Regions from separate parts of the Homo sapiens genome. Here regions 2, 3 and 4 are each reported to be linked to region 1. Evidence: microRNA targets listed by miRTarBase, many of them from high-throughput screens and not tested one by one. Region 1 holds a microRNA gene; each other region holds the end of a gene's coding sequence.
Evidence for each region. The annotated mature microRNA hsa-miR-3202 reads UGGAAGGGAGAAGAGCUUUAAU and lies in region 1 at 1,816-1,837, opposite strand. An mRNA with a match to its seed (bases 2 to 7 or 8) in the 3' UTR can be bound and repressed. Matches are read on the target gene's strand: a 7mer-m8 pairs with bases 2 to 8, a 7mer-A1 pairs with bases 2 to 7 and ends in A, and an 8mer does both.

Region 2: miRTarBase lists SLC48A1 as a target of hsa-miR-3202. Seed matches in the 3' UTR shown: 7mer-A1 at 3,630-3,636 and 7mer-m8 at 2,870-2,876.
Region 3: miRTarBase lists BICRA as a target of hsa-miR-3202. Seed matches in the 3' UTR shown: 7mer-m8 at 4,334-4,340 and 7mer-A1 at 3,931-3,937.
Region 4: the mRNA of MARVELD1 is a reported target of hsa-miR-3202. Seed matches in the 3' UTR shown: 7mer-m8 at 753-759, 7mer-m8 at 1,016-1,022, 7mer-m8 at 1,101-1,107, 7mer-m8 at 1,135-1,141 and 7mer-m8 at 3,651-3,657.

Annotation. Positions count from the first base shown.
Region 1 is chrX:153,979,333-153,984,402 of GRCh38, forward strand. MIR3202-2 (microRNA 3202-2) reads right to left here and starts at 1,844; the gene lies at 1,766-1,844. It overlaps TMEM187 (transmembrane protein 187), which reads left to right. Exons shown (of 2, transcript NM_003492.3): 2 at 2,518-3,862. The coding sequence starts at 2,731. The coding sequence ends at 3,516. It overlaps MIR3202-1 (microRNA 3202-1), which reads left to right and starts at 1,765; the gene lies at 1,765-1,845. RefSeq lists enhancers at 1,142-1,251, 5,059-5,070.
Region 2 is chr12:47,779,387-47,784,456 of GRCh38, reverse strand. It overlaps SLC48A1 (solute carrier family 48 member 1), which reads right to left. Exons shown (of 3, transcript NM_017842.3): 3 at 1,706-4,312. The coding sequence ends at 4,176. HDAC7 (histone deacetylase 7) reads left to right here. Exons shown (of 26, transcript NM_015401.5): 25 at 240-378; 26 at 571-1,735. The coding sequence ends at 616. Among named protein-coding and RNA genes, the nearest start is that of SLC48A1, 8.7 kb to the right of the region's middle. RefSeq lists a silencer at 4,872-4,921.
Region 3 is chr19:47,701,700-47,706,769 of GRCh38, reverse strand. It overlaps BICRA (BRD4 interacting chromatin remodeling complex associated protein), which reads right to left. Exons shown (of 15, transcript NM_001394372.1): 15 at 3,493-5,070. The coding sequence ends at 4,355. Among named protein-coding and RNA genes, the nearest start is that of EHD2, 9.2 kb to the left of the region's middle.
Region 4 is chr10:97,713,712-97,718,781 of GRCh38, forward strand. It overlaps MARVELD1 (MARVEL domain containing 1), which reads left to right and starts at 19. Exons shown (of 2, transcript NM_031484.4): 1 at 19-2,274; 2 at 3,483-4,439. The coding sequence starts at 166. The coding sequence ends at 687. RefSeq lists an enhancer at 331-380 and a silencer at 691-910.

The DNA.
Region 1 (5,070 bases):
CTATAGGTGCACCACCATGCCTGGCTAATTTTTATTTTATTTTTTAAATTTAATTTTATGTATTTTGTGTAGAGACAGGGTCTCACTTTGTTGCCCAGGCTGGTCTCAAACTCCTGGACTCAAGCAGTCCTCTCACCTTGGCCTTCCAAATTGCTGGGATTACAGATGTGAGCCACCATGCCCAGCTACATATGCTTTTTGATGTATAACAGGGTAATGTCCAGATAAACCCATCATAAGTCGAAAATATAGGAACTGGACTTTCAACTTAAGAGGGGTTTAGCTGGGTGCAGTGGCTCACTCCTGTAATCTCAGGACTTTGGGAGGCCAAGGCAGGAGGATCACTTGAGGCCAAGAGTTCGAGACCAGGCTGGGCAACATGGTGAGACCCTGTCTCTACAATTTTTTTTTTTTTTTTTTTTTAGATGGAGTCGCGCTCTGTCGCCCAGGTTGGAGTGCAGTGGCGCGATCTCAGCTCACTGCAAGCTCCGCCTCCAGGGTTCACGCCATTCTCCTGCCTCAGCCTCCCGAGTAGCTGGGACAACAGGCGCCCACCACCACGCCTGGCTATTTTTTGTATTGTTTTAGTAGAGACGGGGTTTCACCGTGTTAGCCAGGATGCTCTCGATCTCCTGACCTCGTGATCCACCCGCCTTGGCCTCCCAAAGTGCTGGGATTACAGGCATGAGCCACCATGCCTGGCCCAAAATTTTTTTAACAAAAATTAGCAGGGCAGGCCGGGCGCTGTGGTAGGGAGGCTGAGGTAGGAGAATGGCGTGAACCCGGGAGATGGAGCTTGCAGTGAGCCAAGATCGCACCACTGCACTCCAGCCTGGGCAACAGAGCAAGACTCCGTCTCAAAAAAAAAAAAAAAAATTAGCAGGGCAAGGTGGTGGTATATCCCTGGTCCCAACTACTTGGGAGGCTGAGGCAGGAGGATAGCTTGGGCCCAGGAGGTGGAGGCTGCAGTGAGCTGTGATTGTGCCACTGCACCCCAGCCTGGGCAACAGAGCAAGACCCCCGTGTCTAAATAAAAATACCCAGGCCATGGCAGCAGAAAGCAAGGAAGAAGCCACGTGGAAGCCCTCCTGGCGCTTCTTCCAGGGAGGTGAGCAGAGAGCACCTGGGGCCAGGAGGCGGCATGCCTGGGTTTCTGCTCCTCCTCACTGTAACTTTCAGCCAAGTCAAACTGCTAGAGTTTCAGTTTCTTTATCTGTGAAATGCCGGGGCTGGCACAGATGGTTTCTAAGATCCCTCCCAGGCCTGGAACTTCTAAGCGATTAGGTCAAAGGTGAGCTAACCGGGCTGGGCACAGTGGCTCATACCTGTGAATCCCAGCACTTTGGGAGGCTGAGGCGGGTGGATCACTTGAGGTCAGGAGTTCAAGACCAGCCTGGCCAACGTGGTGAAACCCCAACTCTACTAAAAATAGAAAAGTTAGCCGGGCATGGTGGTACACGCCTCTAATCACCGCTACTAGGGAGGCTGAGGCAGGAGAATCACCTGAACCTGGGAGGCGGAGGTTGCAGTGAGCCAAGATTGTGCCACTGCACTCTAGCCTGGGCAACAGAGTGAGACTCCGTCTCAAAAAAAAAAAAAAAGGTGCACAAACCGAGGCCCAAGACAGTTAAGGTGCAAGATCACATGGTTAGTAAGTGGGAGAGCCAAGGTTTGAACAGTCTGGCATCAGCTGACCAGGAACTGGAGCCCACCCTTCTCTCTCCCTGAGCCCGCCTACCCGCCCACCCTCTTGAGTGCGAAATTTATTAATATGGAAGGGAGAAGAGCTTTAATGATTGGAGTCATTTTCAGAGCATTAAAGCTCTTCTCCCTTCCATATTAATGTATTTCTCAGCTACTAGGGCTCACTTACAGCACCAGTGGCCCCAAAGCAGTTGACAGTCAGTGGTAATTAAATTGTCTCTCTGGTTCTGTGACTGAAGGAGACAGAAGGCTTTATGGTGGCCTGAGGAAAGAAGGTGATTTGGGGCTTGGCACTTCAGGAGAGGGCAGGCGAGTGAGCCAGGGAAGCTGGCCTGGGAAGCCTGCGGGTCACCCCCTTGCCTCCCGGCCTGGTGCTTGAGTGGCAGACGGTGAATCCTCCTCCTCCTCCATCCCCCACCTTGTGTCAGAGGCCAGAGCTCGGACTCCATCTAATGGTCTCTAGTTCAGCTGGGTATTTGGTGAAAAGGGCTTTGGGGCTGGAGACGTCCACTTTTATAACACACTGACATGGGAAGGCGCATTCTGAGTTGTAATGACAGAGCTAGACAGGTCTTGTCTGTAGATGCAGTGGCTTTAAGGAAACTAGGACGATGGGCAGGATTTTCCTAGGTGCCAGGAGAAAGGGGTGATAGAGGATTCTAGAGGCTTGAGAGAGTCAGTGTGCAGCGGTTTCACTCTGATTTGCTTCTCCAGTGAAGATGGTTGGTAGCTCCTGAGGCCGGGGGTCAGGAACATGGAGGCGGTGCTGGGGACGGTTTGTTTTCTAACCACACTCCTTTTGTAACCACAAAGGAAAAAGGCAGAACGTTCCTCCGCTGGCGCCAGCCAATCAGCAGGACTCCTGCCTTCCTTCGGGGCAAGGTCGCAGCATCTGCCTCGGAAATCACGAAATCACGGGGCTTCTTTCTGCTGGCTCAGCCGGGAGGCCCAGAGTGTTCTGCAGAGGCTGCGTATTGAAGGCTGCTCTCTGAAGCTCCCTGCCCCAGGTCACGCCGCCGGTTCCAGATGAATCCAGAGTGGGGGCAGGCCTTCGTGCACGTGGCCGTGGCCGGTGGCCTCTGTGCCGTGGCTGTGTTCACGGGCATTTTCGACAGTGTTTCCGTGCAAGTGGGCTATGAGCACTACGCCGAGGCGCCCGTGGCCGGCCTCCCTGCCTTCCTGGCCATGCCGTTCAACTCACTCGTGAACATGGCCTACACGCTGCTGGGGCTGTCGTGGCTGCACAGGGGCGGCGCGATGGGGCTGGGTCCCCGCTACCTGAAGGACGTGTTCGCAGCCATGGCCCTGCTCTATGGCCCCGTGCAGTGGCTGCGCCTGTGGACGCAGTGGCGCCGTGCCGCGGTGCTGGACCAGTGGCTCACACTGCCCATCTTTGCATGGCCCGTGGCCTGGTGCCTCTACCTAGACCGCGGCTGGCGGCCCTGGCTGTTCCTCTCTCTTGAGTGCGTCTCCCTGGCCAGTTATGGCCTCGCTCTGCTGCATCCCCAGGGCTTCGAGGTCGCACTGGGTGCTCACGTGGTGGCCGCTGTGGGGCAGGCGCTGCGCACCCACAGGCACTATGGCAGCACCACCTCGGCTACCTACTTAGCTTTGGGGGTGCTCTCTTGCCTGGGCTTTGTGGTCCTCAAGCTGTGTGACCATCAGCTCGCACGGTGGCGTCTCTTCCAGTGCCTCACAGGCCACTTCTGGTCCAAGGTCTGTGACGTGCTCCAGTTCCACTTTGCGTTTTTGTTTCTGACGCATTTCAACACTCACCCAAGATTCCATCCCTCTGGCGGGAAGACGCGTTGAACCCAGGGAAGAACCTGCTGAAAACCGATGACCCCCAGCATTGAAATGGACTCTGAGATGGCAGCGTGGTGCCAGTGTCAGACATCCTGTGTGTGATGATATGCACTGATCACACAAGACTGCCCTTTCCTGAGAAGCTGCGGGCTTCGGTGTGGAGGGGTGGAGTGCTGTGATCTCGACAACTTACTTTCAAAGACATAAAGCACAGATCTCCGCACAGGGGATGTGTGTGTTCCTGATGTAATTTGCATAACTTTTCTGTAGTTTGAAATGTTTCCAAATAAATATTGGCAAGGGGAGTGGAAATGACACCAAGAAGCCCCTCATGCTCATGGTTGGACAGAGAGCGATCGTCTGGAGTATCTTTGGGGTGTCAGCTCTGGGTGTGGACTGGCAGCAGTGAGGCAGGCCAGTCAGTGGGGTACCAGTGAGTGTCCTTAGAGGCGGCTGGATTCAGGGAGACTGAGTCACACTAAATACGTGCCCAGCAGACTGATGGGGAAATCACTCAATTATCCCCATGACATCTGTGACTGTTAACTGTAGGCAGGTCACGTGAGAGCCACATCACCTCAGATCGTCTGTGGAACCAGGCAGTGTGCATCCAGATGAGGAAACACACAAATGTCAAAAGTTGAACTCTCAACAGAAAGTTGCTTTGTGGGTCTCCCCTCAGAGCCAGGGTGTGGCTTAGATGCCCTTAGTGGCTACAGTCTGAGCAGTCCCCACCTGCCCGTCACCCAGGTCCTTGCGAACCAGTCTGCTGACAGTATCGTCAGGCACTGTGCTGGAGGCGGCACGTGCTTCTCATGCAGGCAACAGTTTTTGAGCCCTCGAGCCCAAGGCCCAGACTCTCTAGTTTGTGGTCAGGATGCTGGGTCATTCTTAGCCGCAGCCAGAGAGGCACTGAGGACTCCGTGCCACCCTCTCTACTCCCGGGACAGTCCTTCCTGCCGGTCACTATGTTACTTAGAGGCCTGCCTCACCTCCTTTCATCTGAAGGCATCTGGTCTGTAAAGGGGACTTCCTTTTTTCGAGACAGAGTCTTGCTCTGTTGCCCAGGCTGGAGTGCAATGGTGTGATCTTGGCTCACTGCAACCTCTGCCTCCCGGGTTCAAGCGATTCTCCTGCCTCAGCTGCCTGAGTAGCTGGGATTACAGGCACCCACCACCACGCCCGGCTAATTTTTGTATTTTTAGTAGAGACGGGGTTTCATCATGTTGGCCAGGCTAGTCTCTAACTCCTGACCTCAGGTGATCCGCCCGCTTCGGCCTCCCAGTGCTGGGATTACAGGCATGAGCTCCCGCGCCCGGCCTGTAAAGGGGACTCCTGAAGACAGGTAATGTCATTTAACTCAGGGGCTCTTCATCCCAGACTCCATAGTCTTGTCCCTGGAGCCTTAAGTACTAAGGAGGGTCTGCTTTAAGCCCACAAATTAAATGGAGAAGTGACCAGCTCCAAAGGTGAGGGCAGAGGAGAGAGGATGCCCTGTCCCTGCCAAATGGCATCTCAGCATGGGCCACCCATGTGCACCTGCTCAGTGCCCTCGAGGTT
Region 2 (5,070 bases), not on the chromosome of region 1:
GGGCACCTGCTAGGACTCCCTCACAGCCATGTTGAACCCACTCTGTGTACCCTGTCAGGCTGTGCGGGAGTGGGAGCGAAGTGAGGAGAGGGGCAGGTGGGAGAGCCGACCCTAAGTGGAGGACAGGCCCGCTCCTCCGGGGCCCTGGGCCTGAGACACCAACCTCAATATCCGGTCTAGGACGCAGTGTGGAGGGGCTTGCTTTCTCCAACCCTTTCTGACCTGGCATCTTACCCCAGGTAAATACTGGGGCTGCATGCAGCGCCTGGCCTCCTGTCCAGACTCCTGGGTGCCTAGAGTGCCAGGGGCTGACAAAGAAGAAGTGGAGGCAGTGACCGCACTGGCGTCCCTCTCTGTGGGCATCCTGGCTGAAGATAGGTAATGCCAGACCCCTGGCCCTGGGCCCACAGCCTCTCCACCGCTTCATTCCTCCCTGCTTGAAGACCCCGGGTCCGCTATGCAGCCACCCCAACCCTCCCAGGCTTCCTGACCAGGGTTGAGAGGAAGCTTAGCTAAGGCCCTTGCTGCAGCCCTGGTGCTCCAGCATCCCACCCTTGTCCCTCCCCACAGGCCCTCGGAGCAGCTGGTGGAGGAGGAAGAACCTATGAATCTCTAAGGCTCTGGAACCATCTGCCCGCCCACCATGCCCTTGGGACCTGGTTCTCTTCTAACCCCTGGCAATAGCCCCCATTCCTGGGTCTTTAGAGATCCTGTGGGCAAGTAGTTGGAACCAGAGAACAGCCTGCCTGCTTTGACAGTTATCCCAGGGAGCGTGAGAAAATCCCTGGGTCTAGAATGGGAACTGGAGAGGACCCTGAGAGGAGACGGGCTGGGCGGCGACCCCCACAGGGCTCTCGAGAACAGATTCTCCCCTCCAGTATGGGCCCTGGCTGTGGCCCCCATTCCTCAGGACTGCACAGAGGAGGACTGGCTCCGGCTCCGTCGGGCTCACCCTTAACCACTATTCCTGGCTCTGCAAACCCCAGACTTTGCACACAGCCTCAGGCTCCACACAGAAATGTGAACTTGGCCTCAGACAGGCTGGCCCTTCCTAGGCTCTAGGGGCTAGGGGGGAGTGGGGAGCCAAGAGGTCCCATATTCCTGAGTGCAGGGGTAGTCCCTCTCACCTGCTTCCTCAGACGACTCTGGAAGCTTCCCTCTACCACTGGGCACTGAGACGAAGCTCCCTGACAGCCGAGACTGGCAGCCCTCCATCTGGTCCGTACCCTCGCCAGAGGCCCCCCTACATCAACCTCCTGGCGATGCCCTGGTGGAGCAGATGGGTGCTCTGGGAGTCCTGTGCTTCCTGATCCAATGGTGCCAAACCCTTCATCTCCCCAAGAAGCGCAGCATACCCCTGGGACCCCTCGGCCACTGCCCACTCGGGGAGCCTTCTCTGTTTCTGGGGCCTCCCCCACCATAGCTCTGATTCCCACCCCACATAGGAGTAGCCTGACTGAGGGGGAAGGGGTGGGAGAGAAGATACAGACATGGAGGAGGGGAGGCTGCTCTGGCAAAGTCTTCAAGGCTTTTGGGGGTCCAGGCCTGGGGTCAAGAAGGAAAATGTGTGTGAGCATGTGTGTGAGTGAGGCGTGTGTGTGAGCGTGTGTGTGAGTGAGGCGTGTGTGTGTGTCTTTCCTAGGACCCACCATACCCTGTGTATGTATGCATGTTTTTGTAAAAAGGAAGAAAATGGAAAAAAATCTGAACAATAAATGTTTTATTTGCTTTAAAAGTGCCTCTGAAAGGGCCCCCCAGAAGTGAGCAGTGCGCCGTCAAGCGGGTGTGCAGGGCACACAGCTGCACGGCACAGTGTGGGTCTGAGTCACTGCCGGAGGAGGGACCAGGGTGGTCTGGGCCGCAGCCCCTTTAACAATCTGCCCTTCCTGCCCTGCAGGAAGAACCCATTCTGAACACACCCTGGCTGTCCCTGGCTGCCCCACTTTGGGGTGACAAAGAGGAGGCAGCCCTGGGCTGAGTCCACAGAGACCAGCCCTGATATGGCAGGAGTGGGGGTGGGGTGGGGGAGTGGGAATACAGGAGCTCAGCCCCAGCTCACCACGGCATCCCCGAAGAGTTGTGACTCAGACACACCTGGGTTTAAGTCCCAGCTGGGAGCTCAGGTAAGTCAAATCGTCTTCTGGGGCCTCTGTTTATCAGTAGAAGGCTCCAGAAGTATACACTGTTGATGGCTCCTTCCCGCTCTGATGCACCATGCCTGATTAAGCATACACTGAGCCTAGAAGAGAGAAGGGGTGAGGCACAGGCCTGGACAAGCTCACCCAGCCTAAGCAGAGAGGAAGGCGCCAGGCTGGCAGCACCTGCCTTTGTGGTTCTGAGTCTGTCCGGTTTTTCCAGCAGGAAGAGGAGCACCTCATTACCTTAGACCTGGCCCAAGCTCCTGGCAGCCTGGCAGAGTGTGAGGGAAGAGGCGCTAATCCCTTTCCCATCTGGCCTGGCCTCTCGGGTGTGGACACCAAATCCCGCAGGGGTTGCTGTAGCTATGCCCGTGGGCATCCTTGCCCTGGCTGGGGTGTGCTAGAGAGAGGAAAGCTGGAGGAGGAGAGCTGAGCTGGTGGTTACCCCATGCCAGGAGGGCCAAGGCAAGAGGGCCTGCAGCCCCAGAGATACTGACTCTGTCCCCTGCCCTCCAGGGCACAACTGAACTAGCGGAATGGCTTAATCAGATAGCTCGAGAACTGCCACTACCACTCCCTCCCTGCCCACTCCTCCCAAAGTCCACCTGTTCCCGCAAGAGTCCCACCTCACAAGCAACCACCAGAGGCTGATACAAATGGCCGCTGTATTTTTGCTAAAGTGACAGTGACACAGATAAGGCAAAGAGCTGAGGGGCAGGACACATCAGATGGGAAGGGGGAGACCGTGCAAAATGGCAGTCTAACAGAAAATCATCCTTGTACCAACAGCCCCTTCCCTCCCAAGTTAGGTGAGCCCTTGGGCCAGTGTATGGGCAGAAAAGCAGATTTGTGTCCTTCAGAAGGGAAATGTAAAAAGGTGAAAGCTCTAGTTGAAGGGCAGTGAGAGGGGCTGGAGTGGGAGAGAAGGTCTCTCCTGGCCGGTGGTCTGGGTGCAGCAAGGGCACTCTGAGAAGGCAGAATGGAAACGCAGGGCTGGAGGGGCATGGGTACAGGTTTGGGGGCTCTTTCCAGCCTCTACTATGTTGCCCCCTTCCCCAAAGCCCTTACAGGGGCAGAAGCACATTCCCCGTGACCCTGAGTCTGGCCTCATTTGGGAAGTCTTCTGGGGTGTATGGATGCCTGTGTGTGTGAGTGAGATGGGTGGGGGGCCACGGCTATCTGGCTCTAGCACACTCATGGGAGACCAGCTCTGGGAACAACAGGATGGGGTGCTGGGATGGGGGTTTAAGAGGTCTCTGCTAGATATTTCTGAACTGACCTCCCCAGGTGCCCAACCTGGCCTTGGGAAGAGAGTGCCTAGGGCAGCGGGGATGGAAACCCTTGCCTGCAGCATAGGTCCAGGCCTCATGGCCCTACACCTTGACCTCTTGACTTTGTTGCCCTGGCCTTAAGTACAAAGATTCCTCACTGCGTGCTAAGAAAACAGATCCAGGCCGGGCACGGTGGCTCACACCTATAATCCCAGCACTTTGGAAGGCTGAGGCGGGTGAATCACCTGAGATCAGGAGTTCGAGACCAGCCTGGCCAACATGGCAAAACCCTGTCTCTACTAAAAACACAAAAATTTGCCGGGCATGGTGGCAGATGCCTGTAATCCCAGCTACTTGAGAGGCCAAGGCAGGAGAATTGCTTGAACCTGGGAGGCGGAGGTTGCAGTGAGCTGAGATCGCACTACTGCACTCCAGCCTGGGTGACAGAGTAAGACTCCATCTCAAAAAAAAAAAAAAAAGAAAAAAAAAAGAAAGAAAAGAAAACAGATTCATTTGAAAAGGTCTAAAGCTGCCCTCTGGCCAGGCTGATGAGGAGCAACATGGCAGGATCCCCTCTCTACCACACTCAGGTTTCCTCGAAAGGGGACGGGCAGGACAGCTTCCTGGGAGACCACACTCGTCCTGCTGTGTATTTTCTGCCACAGTTCTGGGGTCACCAGGGGGTGGGAGTAGCCTCTCCCAACATCTCAGAGGCTGAGTCCAGGTCCTAAGGCCCCCCCAGGGTGCAGAGACCTCACCCCCTGGGTCAGAAATCGCTGAGGATGCTGATGTCAGCAAAGTCAGCCCGGTAGCGGTGGGCATAGAGGCTGAGCAGGAAGGCCCACTTGAAGGAAATGAAGCTCCAGACGCTGGAGAGGTAGTAGCTGGTGGGGTCTGTGAGGCCTGCAGGGAGAGAAGTACCGACAGTGACTTTGGCAGGCCCTGCCCTCGGCCTCTGCACCGGCCACAAGGCCAGGGCCACCCTCCCCACTCAACATCCCTGCAACGTCCTGGCAGCTGAACCAACCCTTCAGAAAGACACTGTGATGGAGGTTTTAGAGCCATGGTCCCCAACCTTTTTGGCACCAGGGACTGGTTTTGTGGAAGACAATTTTTCCACAAAAACCTTGGGATGGTTTGGGGATGAAACTGTTCCACCTCAGATCGTCAAACATTAGATCATCAGGGGCACGCAACCCTCGCATGCGCCTCACAACAGGGTTTGCGCTTCTAATGCCCGCCGCTGACCTGACAGGAGGCAGAGCTCAGGCGGTAAGGCTCGCTTGCCCCTCACCTGCTGTGTGGCCTGGTTCCTAACAGGCCACGGACCACTACTGTTCCACAGCCTGGAACAGTAGAACGGAGCTGGGGACCGTTTTAGAGTATTCCAGGGTTTTCAGGCAGGAGGCCGTGGGGATTAGGGAAGGGCAGGGCTGGCCAATCACAGGTCTGTATCATCCACTCCGCTTTTGTGACAAATACCCTAGGCCACCTCCAACCTGCTTTAGTTAGCATCAGACTCCCGGAAGAAGGACCTCTGGTTATTTCCAGCCACAGCCACCAGAGGGCGCTCCCATCCCAGAGCTGAGCACAGACTAATGGGTCCCAATATCAGGAGTGCTTGTATGGGCTATGCACTGCTCAAGACTTCACATCAGTTT
Region 3 (5,070 bases), not on the chromosome of region 1:
CCCTGGCATTATCAGTACTGCACAAAGCCCTCTTCAGCACACAACATGAACTCTCCTATATGCCGGGCATGGTGGCTCACGCCTGTAATCCCAGCACTTTGGGAGGCAGAGGCAGACGGATCACTTGAGGTCAGGAGTTCGAGACCAGCCTGGCCAACATGGTGAAACCCCATCTCGACTAAAAATACAAAAATTAGCTGGGCATGGTGATGGGTGCCTGTAATCCCAGCTACTCAGGAGGCTGAGGCAGGAGAATTGCTTGAACCCGAGATGCGGAGGTTGCAGTGAGCTGAAATCATGCCACTGCACTCCAGCCTGGGTGACAGAGCGAGACTCTATCTAAAAAGCAAATGAAAAAACCAACTCCATCCTATACAACCCCCAGCAAGCCTTTGTTTCCTTGCAGTCAGCTTCTCCCTGGCTGTGTTGCCCATTGCAACTTTGCAATATATTTTCCTACTTTATTTCATAAATCTGCCTTTTTTTTTTTTTTGATGGAGTCTCACTCTGTTGCCCAGGCTGGAGTGCAGTGGTGCAGTCTTGGCTCACTGTAACCTCTGCCTCCTGGGCTGAAGTGATCCTCCCAGTTCCCAAGTAGCTGAGACTACAGGTGTGCATCACCACGCCCTGCTAATTTTGTATTTTTATTTATTTATTACCTTTTTTCGATGGAGTTTCACTCTTGTTACCCAGGCTGGAGTGCAATGACGCGATCTCAACTCACTGCAACCTCTGCCTCCTGGGTTCAAGTGATTCTCTTGCCTCAGCCTCCTGAGTAGCTGGGATTACAGGTGCCTGCCGCCACACCTGGCTAATTTTTGTATTTTTTAGTAGAGGCAGGGTTTTGCCAAGTTGGCCAGGCTGGTCTCAAGCTCCTGACCTCAGGTCATTTACCCACCTCAGCCTCCCGAAGTGCTGGGATTACAGGCGTGAGCCACTGCACCTAGCCAATTTTTGTATTTTTAGTAGAGATGGGGTTTCACTGTTAGTCAGGCTGGTCTTGAACTCCTGACCTCAAGTGATCCGCCCACCTCCCAAAGAGTTGGGATTACAGGCGTGAGCCCATAAATCTGCTTTTTTTTTTTTTTTTTTAACCTACCACTGTCTTGGTAAATTCTTTTACCCCCACACCACCAGCCCAGATAATTGTCACTCACTTGTGACACCCACCTCCTTACCCTGCATTACGGATTGAGTTGTTCTGTCCTCTCAAAATATAGGCTGATGTCCTAACCCTAGTGCCTGTGAATGTAATTTTATTTGGAATCAGGGTCTGTGATCTGAAGAAAGCTAGAAGGGCTGGGCGCGGTGGTTCACGCCTGTAATACCAGCACTTTGGGAGGCTGAGGCCGGTGGATCATGCCATCAGGAGATTGAGACCATCCTGGCTAACACAGTGAAACTCCGTCTCTACTAAAAATACAAAAAATCAGCTGGGCGTGGTGGCACATGCTTGTAGTCCCAGTTACTCGGGAGGCTGAGGCAGGAGAATCACTTAAACCCTGGAGGCAGAGATTGCAGTGAGCTGAGATCGTGCCACTGCACTCCAGCCTGGGCGACAGAGCAAGACATCTGTCTCAAAAAAAGAAAAAGAAAAAGAAAGCTAGAAGAAAAAAAAAAGGGAATCAGGATCTTTGCAGATATGATTAAGTTATGACAAGGGCATACTGGTAGGATGGGCAAAACTCCAATATGACTGATGCCCTTAGAAGAGAAGAGATACAGTGGGAAGTCAGCCAGAGATTGGACTGATTCAGCCACAAGCCAAGGAGAACCTGGGGCCACCAGAAACTGGCAGAGACAAGGAAGGATCCTTCCCTAGCACCTCTGGAGTGGGCATGGCCCTGATGCCACCTTGTTTTCAGACTTCAGGCCTCTAGGGCTGTGGGAGAATAAATATCTGTTGTTTTAAGCTGCCCTATTTGGGGCATTTTGTTATAGCAGCTTGAGGGGACTAATACACCTAGCATGATTTTTTTTCTTCTTTTTTTTTGTTGGTCGGGGGATAGAGTCTCACTCTGTTGCCCAGGCTGGAGTGTCAGTCTCGTCTCACTGCAACCTCCATCTCCTGGGTTCAGGCGATTCTCCTGCCTCAGCCTCTGAAGAAGCTGGGACTACAGGCGTGTGCCACCATGCCAGCTAATTTTTGTATATATATATATTTTTTATAAGTAGAGATGGGGTTTCACTATGTTGGCCAGGCAGGTCTCGAACTCCTGACCTCAGGTGACCCACTCGATTTGGCCTCCCAAAGTGCTGGGATTACAGGTGTGAGCCACCGTGCCTGGCCTGATTCTTCTTTATATGGGCATCTGACACTGTATACATTTACAGTGGACCCTCACTATTTGCAAATGCCATATTTGTGCATTTATCTGCTCATCAAAACTTCTTTGTAACCCCCAAGTCAAGACTCTCAACACACACACGGCAGCAAAATATCAAGTTGCCCAACACAGACGTTCGTTCCCAGCTGAGGTTGAATAAGGCGACATTCTGCCCTCGTTTTGGCTCTCGTACCATAAACACGCGTCCTTTTCTTGGTTTATCTAGTCCCACGCTTTTCACATTTTTGTGCTTTTTGTTGGTGACTCATTGTTTAAAATGGGCCCAAGCGTACAGCTGAAGTGCGGTCTAGTGACCTTAAAGCACCAAGAAGCTGTGATGTGCCTTTGGAGAAAAGATAAAATATATGTGTGAAATAGGCTTGCTCCAGGTTCCAGTTATAATGCTGTTGGCATGACTTCAATGTGAATGAATCAACAATATAAATGAAATAAGGTATCTTTAGGGCTGGGCGTGGTGGCTCACGTCTGTATTCCCAGCACTTTGAGAGGCCAAGGCCAGAGGATCACTCGAGCCGTGGAGTTCCAGACCAGCTTGGGCAACATAGTGAGATCCCATTGCTACAGAAAGATTAAAAAAAAAAATAGCTAAGCGTGGTGGTGCGCCTATAATCCCAGCTACTCGGGAGGCTGAGGTGGGAGGATCACTTGAGCCTGGGAGATCAAGGCTGCAGTGAGCCACGATCGTGCCACTGCACTCCAGCCTGGGTGACAGAGTGAGCCCGTCTCAAAAATACATAAAGAAGTGTTTTTAAACAGCAACACATGTAAACTAAGGTGATGTATTGACTGAACTGTGGTGATCAGAGGCCCTTAGAAACCTAACCCTGTCTCCCTGGGGGCAATGGCTCAGTATTCACTAATTCTCAGAGTGTATGCAGAGATTATAGAACCTTACCGGAAATAAGAAGAACTGGCTTGATCTGGCTTAGCTGTTTACCACCCGCCTTCCCCACTAACAAGTCAGCTTACCGGCTTAGCAGGGACTCTTGTCTGCCTTGTTCATGTTGAACCCCCTGAGCCTAGAACGGGGCCTGGTACTCAGCAGGTGCTCAACAGATGCATGCGGAAGAAGGCCTCACAATCCCAGATCCAAACACTCCCCCACCCTCACAAACCCAAAAGCAATGGGCCAAGGGGGCATGAGTACAGTTTTAAAAAAAGGATCGGTTTTTAATTTACAAGAGTTCTAAATGTACAGAATTCTCCTTTAAAAAAATCGTTATACACAATAAATACAGTACAAAAAAATTTATCTTACAGTACTAGTTTTGTCTCCGAGATTTCAAAATCTGGCGCGGGCGGCTGGAGGCAGGAAGAACAGAGGGAAGACTAGCTGGGGAGAGGTTCGGGGGAGAGGAAGACCCCAGTTTCTTGTTTTGCTCAGATTTCAAAGTCGAGGGGTGGGCGTTCGAAATCTCTCACTCACTTGTGCACACACACACACACACAGGTCACGGAGCTGGACGTGCGGATGTCACACGGGTGCCTGCGGGCACAGCACGCTGGGAGGCTGGCTCCCCCACCCCCTCTCCGGTTTTGTTTGACAGCCTGTTGGGGGCGGCGGGGAGAGGCTGAGACTGTCTGGAAGGACCCTGCCAGCTCCCAGCACCCTCCACCATCTGAGAAGCCACACAGACAAGACAGGCACCCGGAGCGTTGGCATCAACCCGGTGGCCCCATCCCTGGCAAACACATGCGCGTGTCCCCCGGACAGAGGGGCAGAGTGTGCCAGGAAATGGGAAGAAACAGGAACTGACACAGCACTTTGCCCCTCCTTTGGCAGGGGAGACGTTTTACATCACAGCCCCCTCCCTAAATCCACGCCCACCCCCCAGCAACCCAGCTGAAGCAGGCGGCAGGGAAGGAGGCCTTTGTGACTCAAATAACTTAGGCAAGAAAAACCGTCAGGGGATCCCCGGCTCGAGTCCCCAGGAGGCTGAGGGCGGACACCCGACTGTCCCGGCGTCTTCGGGAGGAGGGGACGGGGAAGGGGAGGCGGCCCGGTGTTATCTGGTCAACGTCCTGGCGCCGAGGCCACCGTTGTGACTGGAGGGTGGGTAGGCCTCGGGCCTGTGCAGGGGCGGCGGGGATGCGGGGGTGCCGGCCGAGGCAGCGTGGGGGTACGAGGGCGCGGGCGTCCGGCCGGGGGCCTGCTGCAGGTTCAGGATGCTGTCGATGGCGCTCTGCAGGTGCTCGGTGAGCGTGTCATCCTGCGGGCTGTCGCTGGAGAAGCTGGCCTGGTCCACGTCGGGCGACTCGGACTTGCGCCGCTTGGCAGGGGGCAGCCCGGGCGCCTCCCAGTCGGGGTCCCCGGTGCCTTGGGCGGCGCTGGCTGCGGGCTCTGGCGGGGGGCCCTTCAGCATACGCTGGTACAGCTCGTCCTCCACGGCCGCCAGCTCGCGGATGAGCCCGCTGGTGGCCTCGTCCACTTTGGCGGGCAGCGGCGCCGGGCTGCCTCCCCGTGCCCTGCCTGCGGGCGTCCCCTCCGGCGCGCCAGGGCCCCCCACGTTCTCGCGGTAGGTCTTGCGCAGTGGCAGGCGCGGGCAGTGCGGGGCGGTGCCCAGGGGCTTGCGCTCGGGGGCGGCAGGCGGCGGGTGGTCCACCGTGCCGTTCATCTGGCCCGTGGGCGGCGGTGGTGGTGGCGGCCGTGGCGGGGGCTCGGCCACCTTGAGGGTAGCGGGGGGTGGCGGGGGCTGGTGCACGGGGTCCAGGGCCGTGTTGT
Region 4 (5,070 bases), not on the chromosome of region 1:
AGGAAGGGTGGGGAAAGGAGGAGAGGAAGAGAGGACTAAGAGGGGAGCAAGGCGAGGAGGCCGCGGCGGGCGCAGCGGGCACCTGGGCCGTGCTGCCCCCGCGAGCAAGGCGCCGCCATTCCGCTGCTCGGGGCGCCGCCGCCGCCGCCACCGCGCCCAGGGGCCATGCTCCCGCCGCCCCCGCGCCAGCCGCCGCCCCAGGCGCGTGCGGCCCGCGGCGCGGTGCGCCTGCAGCGGCCCTTCCTGCGCAGCCCGCTGGGCGTGTTGCGGCTGCTGCAGCTGCTGGCCGGCGCTGCCTTCTGGATCACTATCGCCACCAGCAAGTACCAGGGCCCCGTGCACTTCGCGCTCTTCGTGTCCGTGCTCTTCTGGCTGCTCACCCTGGGCCTCTACTTCCTCACGCTGCTGGGCAAGCACGAGCTGGTCCCCGTGCTGGGCTCGCGCTGGCTCATGGTCAACGTGGCGCACGATGTGCTGGCGGCCGCGCTCTACGGCGCCGCCACCGGCATCATGAGCGACCAGATGCAGCGCCACAGCTACTGCAACCTCAAGGATTACCCGCTCCCCTGCGCCTACCACGCCTTCCTGGCGGCCGCCGTCTGCGGCGGCGTCTGCCACGGCCTCTACCTGCTTTCGGCGCTCTATGGCTGCGGGCGTCGCTGCCAGGGCAAGCAGGAGGTGGCGTGAGGCCGCCCGCGCCCGCCGCGGCCCCGATCGGGGCGGGGGAATCCCCGGAGACCAGCCTCCTTAATCCCTTCCCCCGCCGCCGCCCCGCGCGGGTGCGCCCTGGCACCCTCTCCCTGCCCTCCAGCGTTTCCACTGTCGCCCGCGCCCGGGAACCCTGACGCTCAGCTCCCGCCCGACGGCAGCGCCGCCGCCGCCCAGAATCCCAGCCCAGAATCCCGACCGCCGCGCCGGACGCGCCGTCTCCCGGGACAAGCGCAGGCTGCGATCCGAGGGGCTGACACACACTCGCAGACGAGCCGCCCCGAGGCGAAACCTCGCGGTTCCTCTTCCCTTCCCTGCTGAGACTAAGACGTGGACAGGGGCCGCGCAGATCCGGGGGAGGCTCCCAAATTGGAACCAGGCTTCTGGCTGCCCCCTTCCCTCCCGCCCCGTGGTCGGAAGAGCACTCCCTTCCCTGGCCCCTCATCCAGCCTCCGGTGCTGTAAAACGCAGGCGCTGGGCCGCGGGCGGAGCTGAGGACAGGCCTTGGCTGGTCCCAGGATGAGCGACGAGTTTGGTTTTAGCTGGGGATTGTGCTGGCATCCTGCGAAGCTCCTCCCAGCCGGTCTCTCTGTGCTCGGTTGTCTTGGGGTGGGGCCCATCCGCCGAGGTGGGGACCGATAGGAGAAGCCGGTGGGTTGTACCCTTACACTTGTGGAGTCTCCTCTTGCCTCTACCTACTCCGCCTTTGTCCTTAAGGTTTTTGCAGGCCAGTGCCAAACACACACTAACTGTCCTGGCCTCTCCGTGACACAAGTCTCTTCCCAGCCTTCCTCACAGGCTTCTGCCGCCCCCCTCATCTCCACCCTCCCCCATATCTGTTTGCATTAGGAGTTCCACGACCATGGTGGAATGTTAAGGTGAACCCCACCCCTTCTTACAGATGGGGACCCAGAGCCTGCTCTTGGGAACAGCCAGAGTAAGATTGGAACCCAGACTTGCAGTCCAGCGCTGTTTGCATTAAAAGGGTGGGTGAGTCAGGACCCCTGGCTCAGGAGCCGCCTCTCCTAAAAGAGGGTTTCAAGGCCAAATGGGTTTGTCAACGGTGCTGTCTCCCTTTCTTGGAGATGCTCATTAGCTTATCAAAGACTGAGAAGTCCCGCTGTTACAGAAATAATTTAGTTTGCTGTATTAACTGCTCCTGGGCCTGGAGCAGTATTCCCACCTTAAGATTCCCAGCATCCCTGTGCTGTCCCGGCTCTCATTCATGCCGAAGGGCCCAACCCATTGGCTGTGTTCTGTTTGAAGATTTGGGGGGCGCCTTCTCTTTCTTCCCCAGGGAATTCTCTAGCAGAGGGAGGGGACCCACCCCAGTGAGGAAGTAGATTGCTGCCTCTAGCCAGAGACCTGAACTGGGGAATTTGAACATTCCTTTACATTGTTGGAGAAATGAAGCCAAAGTTATTCAGATGGTTTTCCCAGGCTAAAGGAAAGTCACCTGCAAGAGATCCCGGCACTGATCTGGAGCAGCTGACAGGGTGGGTCTCCCTTACCAAAGAGAAGAACCACTCTCTGGCGCTGGGGTGACCTGCTGGCTGGGCCTGTAAGGTAAGACGCTTCTTGGTTTTCTGGAAGGGGTCCTGGGCATTTGAATAAAAAGCACAGAGCCTACTCCTTTTCCAGAAGTTAAAGGGTTTTTATTCAGAGCAAGTTGGAGAGGTGACGGTAATAACCACAATATCTACAGAGTTGTGAAAATTCAACCTTTTTGCTAAATCCTTCAATGGTCTGCTCTTTTATTTTTTCTTTCTCTTTTGTTTTGTTTTTGAGGCAGTCTTACTGGGTCACCCACGCTGGAGTGCAGTGATGTGATTATGGCTCAATGCAGTCTCGACCTCCCAGACTGAAGCGATCCTCTCACCTCAGCCTCCCGGGTAGCTGGGACTACAGGCACATACCACCATGCCTGGCTAGTTTTTAAATTTTTGTAGAGACAGGGCCCCATTGTATTTTGCATGCTGGTCTCGAACTCCTGGGCTCAAGAGATCCTCCCGTCTCAGCCTCCCAGAGTGTTGGGATTACAGATCTCAGCCACTGTGCCTGGCCAGGTCTGCTGTTTGAAAAGGCTCAACCTTCTCTGGATTAGAAACTAGAAGAGGGGAGGCTGCGTGTTTTTGTGAGCTTGTTTTTAAAGCTTAGGTGCACAGGTGTTAGCTTTCTCTGTGGAGGCTGCAAAGGTGTAGTTTCAGGGTGTGTGAAGCATGAATGTAGTTCTAGATATGTTGCCATCAGAGCACCTATGTAGCTCTATTATATGGTTGGCACGTCTCAAAGCATTTTATAGGTGTCCATTGATTCTCTCAGTAACCCTAATGAGGTGGGTTCTAATGTCATTGCCATATTCCAAATGAGGAGGTTGAATCCCAGAGAGGTTAAATACCTTGCCCAAGGTCTCCCAGCTAATGAGTGGTAGAGGTAGGATTTGAACCCTGGCAGCCTGGCCTCTTCATGACCAGGCTATACTCTATATAGTAGGGTATCAATACATGTTAGATACTGTTAATGTAGCTATTTTTTAAATTGTGGTAAAATATACATAAAATTTACCATCTTAACCATTTTTAAGTGTATAGTTCAGTGGCATTAAGAACATTCACAGCTAGTCGCAGTGGCTCATGTCTGTAATCCCAGCACTTTGGGGGGCCGAGGCTTGAGACTAGGAGTCCCCTCAGCCCCAAGTGCTGGTGCAGTGAGAGCCTGGGGTGAGACACTTGGGGTGCTTTGGAAGCCCTTTGACTTTGGTTCTCCTGTTGCAGGTTTCCATGTTGCTGAGGCCATGGAGATTCCCAGAGCTGGTCACACCGACCGCTCTCAGGGCCCGCTGCCCTGGGCTGGCAACACCATTCTGGCCTTGGCCTGCAGAAGCTTTCAGAGTCTTCACTGGCAGTAGGGGGAGATGGGGAGAGGAATGATCTCTGCCCAGCCCCTTCCTTTCCAAACCATGCAATGGAAGAGCCCAGATGGGTGAAGATTGATTTTGCCTTAACTCAAGAGAATTCCTGTTCTCCTTGTGCTATGATTTGGACACAAGATTCTGGATACCTGGAACTTAGCTGTGTACTCCTGTACCCTAAACAGTGGATTTGAGTTCCAGCGTTTATTCTTTTTTCCTTTTTTCAGATCACCATCTAAGTTACATCTTTAGCTCAGGTCCATCCTTCTCAAGATCTCCTTCTTAGCCCCCCAGCCCCTGGTGCTGTCTGTGGTCAGGTGACCTTACTCAGGAGCAGATATCTCCTTGGCCGCCATGGAGCCTCATCCATCCACACGTGCCTGTAGCATTCCAGAGCTCACTGCCCTTCTAGATGTGCCTTCCCGCTTGGCTTCCAGCGGCTTGTGCTCACTCTGTCTGCCAGGTATGAGAAGAACACGTAAGACCGCCACCACACTCACCCTCCCTCAAGGCCCTGTGCCATAGGGGTGGCCACCCGACCTGCCCCCAGAACTTTTGGATACTGGAGGCAGTTGCATAGGTCTCCCTCTCTGGGCACCAGGACTCAGTCCAGCCCAAGACTACTCTGGGCAGCTCCCATCCCAGTCTGGGGCCATTTGCAGACTCAGGAAAGGATTTCTACAGTGTTCTATAAAAGCCAAAAGAGAGAGTGGGTTTGGGAAGAGTGAGGGTGGTTGGGGAGAGGGGACCGATGTGCCTCATTGTTTAGTGGTGATTACAAATATGCTTTTCTGGATAAAGTTTGGTTGTTTGCTCTTGGTGTGTGTGTCTTCTGTCCTGGTCCTCTGTAGCGTCCCTCCATGTGAGGTCCTCCCATTCTATCTCATTGTGCCTCACGCCCTGCTGCTGGCCTCCTTTCTGCCTCTCTGGCTTCCTCTTTCCTTCTAGGAGGGAAAGAGAGTGAGTTCACAGATCTCTAGTGCAGTTAGGAGCTTGGGCCAGGGGTTGCCTGAGGACAGAAACCAGAGGGAAGAAAACTGCCTGTGTCCCTGATGGAGGCTGGAGGGAATTCCAGAGGCTTTTGTCCCTGCTCTCAATGGGCCCTCTGTTAGGGAGCTCCACTGCCTCTCATTCTGTGCGCAGAAAGACCGTGGTTGTGGAGCTAGAGGGTCCTGTTCTAGTCCAACCCCATCGTTTTACAGAAGAGGAAATGAAGTCCAGGGCGTGGTGGCAACCTGCCTGATGCTACACAGCTGATTAGGGGCAGAGTTGGGGTCTCCCGTAGCCAGGCCCTGTTTTTTTCCCTGCACACCACTGTGGCCTGCTCTGGTGTTGCCTCCTGGACCACACCCCACCTGCCTTTCACCCGATTCCCCAGAGATTCTTTGTCCAGCCAGCTGCTGGCTGCTGACGGATGCCCTGGAAAGGGTGTGAGGGCAGAGTTAAGAGGC